Homo sapiens: one gene and its partner. The protein of the gene in region 1 interacts with the protein of each later gene in a pairwise test. Each region holds a gene or a part of one and is shown in the gene's direction. Other genes may lie near its edges.

Region 1 (3,750 bases):
GGAGGAGACGGACTTACGAGTTTCAAACACGGTTGGTTTTCACCCCTGAGCTAGTCAGGCAAGAGTAGAGTCAGCCAAAGAAGACTAGGTACACACCCACCACACACAGAACTCCCATAAAAGTCCCAGTGTCTGAGGCAGAAGCCTCAGAACGTTAGTGAGAAACAGTGTCCACCAGCAGCTCTCTCAGCCTGACAAATGGAAGTCATTAGCCCAGGCCACCGGAAATCTGAGCGGTGTAAAATATGGCCGCAGGACCAGGGGCCTTGACTGTTTCCGCTGACAGTGTTGTTAATATCTCCATTTTAGTGGGTGATTTGTCTCCACCTCTTCACGAGTGATGAATCCACTGGCACTCTGGAACCTTTAAGCCTGGGGTAAAGGCGGCTAGAACATTCTCTTTCTTCCACCTTTGCTCATTCTCTCCCAGAAAAATGAATCACACTCTTTTTTTTTTTTTTTTTTTTTTTTTTTTTTTTTTTTTTTTTTGAGACAGAATCTCACTGTGTCGCCCAGGCTGGAGTGCAGTAGCATGATCTCGGCTCACTGCAACCTCCACCTCCCAGGTTCAAGCGATTCTTGTGCCTCAGCCTCCTGAGTAGCTGGGATTACAGGCATGAGCCACCACATGTGGCTAATTTTTTGTAATTTTAATAGAGACGGGGTTTTGCCATGTTGGCCAGGCTGGTCTCGAACTCCTGACCTCAGGTGATCCGACCACCTCAGCCTCCCAAAGTACTGGGATTAGAGGTGTGAGCCACCACACTCAGCCAAATTACACTCTTTAAAGAGGGCAGGATTGGCCAGGTGGCAACCAGAATCTATCTTTGCAAAGAAAGGAGGGCTTGGCCGGGATGAGGGCAGGGTGGGAATGCTAGGGCAGTGAGAAGGCGTTGAAGAGATGAGAGCTGTTCCCATAGGAGATGGTTTTCTGCTTCCCTTGAGCTGAGAATTGTTTAGAAACTACAGAACAAAGAGAAAAGGATACATTCAGAGGACTTTGCTTGAGAAACTTACCTTCTTTTTTTCCCTCTCTCTCTTCCTCTTTTCATTCCTTCTACGAATATTTCTTGAGCACCTACTATGTGTCAAGAGCCATGCGGTGCAGCAATGAGCATTGCATTCCAAGCTCAACCTTCCTGGGGCCTTTGCACTTGCTGTGTCTTCTACCTGCCCCCACGTTCCCCCACATCTTTGCCAGGGCCTGCTTAAATGACACTCCCTGGAGAGGCCTTTCCTGACCCAGCTCTCAAAAGTAGACACACAAAGCTGCTTTCTACCCTATCTCATTCTGTTTCCTTCCTAGCACTTACCAGGAGATGAACTTATCTTGTTTATTTCTTATCTGTGGGTTTATCTGAGCCTCCAATGAAAGCCCCATAAGTGTTTGTGACCTGTACAGAAGGCCCCACTGGGGTCTGCCCCTGGCATCTTTATAGATCTTCCTTTGCTCACTGAGGGATTCTCAATCTGGGATGCCCTTCCCTTCAGTGACCTGCTAACTATGAAGCACTTATTCTTTTTTTTTTTTTTTTTTTTTTTTTTTTGAGATGAAGTTTCACTCTTGTTGCCCAGGTTGGAGTGCAGTGGCATGATCTCAACTCACTGCATCCTCTGCCTCCTGTGTTCAAGTGATTCTCCTGCCCCAGCCTCCCAAGTAGCTGGGATTACAGGTGGCCACCACCACGCCCAGCTGATTCTTGTATTTTAGTAGAGATGGGGTTTCACCATGTTGGCCAGGCTGGTCTCAAATTCCTGATTTCAGGTAGTCCACCCGCCTTGGCCTCCCAAAGTCCTAGGATTACAGGCGTGAGCCACCACGCCCGGCCTCCTCATTCGTTCTTCAAGGTCTGGGTCTCATGCGCTTCTTGTCCCCTGAGACACCCCCATCCCATTCACTTCTACCAAAAAAGAGGCTGCTTCCTCTGGCTGGCTCCCATGACATTTTATTTACACCTGCCTTAATGATTTCTTTACATTCTTCCTAAGGTAGTCTTATTTATTATCTTTTAAACTACTGAGAAACGCCAGCATTCTTTCTTCCATATACATGCACATATATATACAATTTGTCCTGCATCCTTCCTTTTTCCTATTTACCTAGATATGTCCCTAGCTACTCAGGAGGCTGAGTCAGGAAAATCAGTTGAGCCCAAGAGATCAAGGCTGCAGTGAGCCATGATCTGCATTCCAGCATGGACAACAAACTGAGACTCCATCTCTAAAATTAAAAAAAAAAATTAATGAAACGAAATTCAGCTGGGCACAATGGCTCATGCCTGTAATCCCAACACTTTGGGAGGCTGAGGTGGGTGGATCGCTTGAGCCCAGTAGTTTGAGACCAGCCTGGTCACCATGGTGAAACCCTATCTCTACAAAAAATACAAAAATTAGCCAGATGTGGTGGCATGCATCTGTTGTCCCAGCTACCCGGGAGGCTAAGGTAGGAGGATCGCTTGAGCCTGGGAGGTTGAGGCTGCAGTGAGCAGAGATCATGTCACTGCACTCTAGCCTGTCTCAAAAGAAAGAAAGAAAGAAAAAAAAAACTCCACATCATGACAATAACTTGAAGCAGGTACCACCTGCTGCAAAGAAAAGGAAAAGATAAAAACGAAAGCTATAAAGAAAACAGATTAGTGTCATCTGACCTGGCTAGCTACAGTGGCCTGCTGAAGACTCTCCAAGACCAGCTCTGTTTGTTCACAGTGGAGACTGTCAATGCTGGGGAGGGGTTCCAGCACCGAGCTGTGACTTTCTTCTTGAAGTAACAGGATTCAGAGCACTGCAGCCTCCAATTCCCGGCCTCAAGCAATCCTCCCGCCTCAGCCTCCCAAAGTGCTGGGATTACAAACGTGGGCCACAGTGCCCAGGCAAGAACAAATTTTTAAAAAGGAATCGCTTTCCCATTGTGCAATTTAACACCATGTCAGTGCACCGCCTAAGACCACGCTGGTACCAACAGAGGCGAGAGGGTCAAACAGCGAACACGCTGGGCAGTGCTGGATAAGCCCGTCAGAGCAGGCTCTGAATAGAAATGGTTGGCCATACTGGTGGGTACTGGCCAGATGTGGGTCTGCCAGCAACATCAAGTGCCCCATAGTTTGGGAAGTCCCCACGTGCTAGACTTAACTGGGTTGACTTCTCACATGCCCTCTAACCACAGGCGTGGAACCCGGGGGCAGGGGCGGGGCCATAACCTTGTGGCTGGTGTTCTGTGTTTCAGCACAACATGCCTTTCTGGCGGATATCCTGCCACGCAGACCTGGAGGCACTGAGGCACGCCCTGGAGCTGGAGTATTTATAGCAGGATCAGCAGCATCTCCACCTGCCATCTCACCCTCAGACCCCCTCGCCTTCCCCACCTCCCCACCGAGAACTCCAGAGACCCAGATGTTGGACACCAGGAAGGGGCCCCACAGCCGAGACGACGTGTCCAGTGACCATCTCAGAAGCCGTCCATCAGTCCAAATGGGGGTTCTGAGAAGGAAAGTACCCAACATTGGCTTCGGAGTATTTGACTTTGGGGAAAAGGGCTGGCTCGGAGTCTAGACTCTTCTGTAAGACTCACAGAACAAAAGCAAGGAATTGCTGATTTGGGGGGTGCCTGGTGATGAGGAGGGGATGGGTTTGTCTTGTCTTCTTTTTAATTTATGGACTAGTCTCATTACTCCGGAATTATGCTCTTGTACCTGTGTGGCTGGGTTTCTTAGTCGTTGGTTTGGTTTGGTTTTTTGAACTGGTATGTGGGGT
Region 2 (3,750 bases), on another chromosome or scaffold:
TACAAGAGCCCAGTTTTGTCTTATTTGGAGCTACTTGGAGCCATAGTTGGAGAGAGTTTGCCCTTGATTTATAGGATAAACTGACCTCACTGACATTTAAAGGAAGCCCCTGTTCATGGGAAAGTGTGAGATCAGCAGAAATGGGGGCTCACAGGGGGATCTCAATTTCTTAAGATAACTTCAAGCTTGTGCCCACCGACTGCCTTTTGTCTGGGAAGGCAAAGACAGACAGGCAGTTCTGGACCAAAACACAGTTTCCTGGTGCAAATGGGACTCAATCTAATTCTTGGGGGTGGTAGAGGAGGAGACATAGTGAAAAAAAAAAAAAAAAAAAAAGGCTGACAGAGTTTAAAAGAAAACTTTTCCTGCCTAGGGATCCTACCATCAGAGCAAATGTCAGTTGGGAAAGTATTGGAGAATGGAAAGGAGCAACTTTTCCTTTCAGATATTATTGTGATTTTGGATGCCAGCTTTAAACAACCCAGTTTGTGACACATTTGTGATTATAAAAATGATCATTTCTACAAAAATGCTCACTCTTTTAAAGCACTGTGTTAGATGGAAGTGTTTAAAATCAAGTTACAATGGCTTTGCCAAACCACTCCTCCACCCATAGGACCCAAAGACAAACATACATTGTTTGTAGCCTTCACATATCTCTTTGAAACTATACCTGGTCACTGAAAAATGCCAATAATTCAATATTCTCAACCCCAGGTATTATAGTAATTACTTTACACCATACAATTTTCTTTGCATCTCCACCAAGAACAGAAAGAATAACTGATGGCATTACACCTTAACACTTAATTTTACTTTCATTTTCTTAACCTATTTCATTTTCTCTTTCTTGTATATACATTTTTTAAACTCTTTCAGGAAAACCCTGCCACTAACACCCATGGCATGTATAGTGGTAATTGCAAGATTTATTTTTAAGTCATATGCACATATCACATATGTAATGTGTAGAGGTAGTGTATCAAGGGGAGCCCTATGCACACACAAAGCAGAAATCTGTGCATGTATATTTTGCACTGTATCGTGGGAATAATTTAGTTATTTGTTTGCAAAGGACAGTGCAGGTCTTTTTGTTCTCTATTGACATAAGTACCAGATCCCCACAGTGCAGTGAGCACCAGTGCAGGCACCCTTAGGTCAGACGCTCCTCTCTTTCTTTTCAGCCAGCCCCACTGCCAAATTGTTGTCAACCCCCAGTCGGCCTTGGGTTAAGAATGAGGAGGTGGAGAACGGCACGTGCAGCCTTAAGGGTTCCTTCTCCGATTTAGGTTTCTTCCACTCCTTTGCCCTGGGAGAGCAAAGGGGCGAAGGGAAATCAAAAACCGGTTGAAAAAGAAAAAAGTGTCTTCCCTCAGGCGTGGGTCAGAGAATTTGGAAAGGCCTACTCTGAGGGGAGTAAAACTTCACCAGGCCCTGGGCTGGAAGCACAGGAGGTCGCGGCTGGGCCCAGCGCCCTCGGGAGGCCAAGGGCAGGGAGCCGACCCAAGGTCTAAGCCCTCCAGCTCTCCGTCGCGGGTTTGGGTCCCGTCTCAAGAGTGGGGCGCGCGGGCTGGGCCTCCGGCCTGACACCCTCTCTTCTCTCCATCAGTGAGCGACAGCTCCCCCTACCACAGCCCCAAGGTGGAGGAGTGGAGCAGCCTGGGCCGCAACAACTTCCCCGCCGCCGCCCCGCACGCGGTGAACGGGTTGGAGAAGGGAGCCCTGGAGCAGGAAGCCAAGTACGGTCAGGTGAGGAGGCGAGGGTCAGGCCAGGTGGGCCGCGTGGCGGCGGGGATTTAGGCGATGGAACACTTTGTGATGGGTCCCTTTCTGAGCTTCCCGCGAGAGAAGCCCAGGCTGGCGTCCCTTTGCTGCTACGAGCCAGATCCTTCGTGGACTGGGGCGAAGCAGAGGCCTGAGCCTTGGAAGGCGGAGCTGGGGCCTCGACCCCCGCCAGGGGCCGGGAGCGCTCGTCAGGGCGCTGGGGGTCTGGGGCGGCAGCTCCCCGGGGCGAGGCTCTGGGAAGCGCCTCCAGGCCTGTCGGCCTCCGGGAGCTTGGGGAGGCGGCTCCCGAAGCCCTTTCGGCGGCTCTCGTTGGGGGTAGAGTTAACCAAAGAAGGCGCTTCTGAAGGGCCGAGCGGAGCAGCCCTGGGGCCTCAGAGCCGCGCCTTCACGCCCGCGAAACGCGCGCCCCGGGTCTCGGCCCCACGGTGCGACTGCGGCTGCGGGGTCCTCACGTTCGGACTTTCTCTCCGGTGGCTCTCGGACAAACACGCTTGGCCAATCCTGCGGAGAGGGGCACCCAGATAAACGTAACAAAGCTACCATTTTCTCGACTAAAGGTCACATTGTAATCTCCCAAGGAAGTTAGTGAGAAAACCTCAAATTATACGGACTGGCTGTGGACCGTTTAATTTTTCTTTCCCTCCGTCCCTCCCTCATGTCTCCAAAGGAAAATTTAAAACACTCGTGTTTTTATTTTCCCCCCGAGAAAAGCTAAACAACCACCACAACAAAAGCCCCAGATTTAAGTCTAAATTCATCACCGTCCTGGAGTCAAGAGTTCAAAACTCTCAAAAAACCGGACCTTAAGGCAATGTAAGGTTTCCCCAGCAGACCCCAGTAGGTTTGCAAATCTCTTAATCCCAAACTCAATTCCAAAGCCTCAAGCTATTCAGTTTTCCTTTTATTATTTTGAAGACTTAAAATTTTTAATGCTTTTTTGTCTGTCAAAATCAGCTTTTAAAATTAAGTGGAATTTGTTCCTCTTATTCACTTGAAAAAACATCTTAGTCATTATTTTCTGTAACAAATCCCATTTCCACTTCCTCTTCCCTCTCTTATTTTGTTGAAATAGAATCAGAATACATATTAGTGGCTCTCCAATGGCAAATAACACAGAAAATAGCAAGGAAAGAGAGCCCTTTTCCTTAGTCTGTTTCTACTGTGAAGAATGTCAATGAGAAATGATAAGGAAGTTTGTCATTTTCTTTTACTAAACGACCCACCCTTAATTCGTAATTTGCAAAGAAAAGGCAGAATAGTACAATGGTTAGGAGCTCCGATCTCTGGCTGTACGACTTCTTAGGAAAATATTTAATTTTTAGTCTCTATTTCTTCATCTTTAAAACAGGGAAATGATATTCCCAACCCAGAGATGTTATGAGTATTCAATGAGATAATGCAACCATATGGCACATAGTAAGCATTTATTAAGTATTGTCTGTGGTTCTAAGTGGCAGTTAAAAAGACACGTGTAAAAGTAAGTAATATTTATCAGAGTATACTTTGTTCTGAGAGACCATAGTCAAAAAGCTTCAAGAGATTTTGTTACAAACAATAGAAAGAGTGTATATAAAGCACCTACCATAGAAGCAAGCATTTAATAGGCGCTCAGTGCTTTTTATTAGGTCATCATTGATTGGAATAACATTGTGAAGTATAGAGTTGAAAAAGTTTCTAATTCCCACATGTCATTGATGAACCCAGTTTATATATCAAGCAGTCATAATCCCAAAAAAAACCCTTTATACTTATTATTTATTTATTTATTTTGAGACGGAGTCTAGCTCTGTCGCCAGGTTGGAGTGCAGTGGCGCGATCTCTACTTATTGCAGCCTCTGCCTCCCGGGTTCAAGCGGTTCTCCTGCCTCAGCCTCCTGAGTAGCTGGGATTACAGGCACGCGCCGCCACACCCACCTAATTTTTGTGTTTTTAGTAGAGAGAGGGTTTCACCATGTTGGCCTGGCT

The links. The genes of interacting proteins can lie anywhere in the genome.
Region 2: the proteins of EYA2 (region 1) and PAX9 interact in binary tests that used the Homo sapiens proteins (3 or more experiments, as listed by UniProt).

The regions. Positions count from the first base shown.
Region 1 is NC_000020.11:47,184,830-47,188,579, forward strand, and holds part of EYA2 (protein phosphatase EYA2), read left to right. Parts: intron 1-3,223; coding exon 3,224-3,304; 3' UTR 3,305-3,750. UniProt on the Homo sapiens protein: Functions both as protein phosphatase and as transcriptional coactivator for SIX1, and probably also for SIX2, SIX4 and SIX5.
Region 2 is NC_000014.9:36,664,853-36,668,602, forward strand, and holds part of PAX9 (paired box protein Pax-9), read left to right. Parts: intron 1-1,609; coding exon 1,610-1,749; intron 1,750-3,750. UniProt on the Homo sapiens protein: Transcription factor required for normal development of thymus, parathyroid glands, ultimobranchial bodies, teeth, skeletal elements of skull and larynx as well as distal limbs.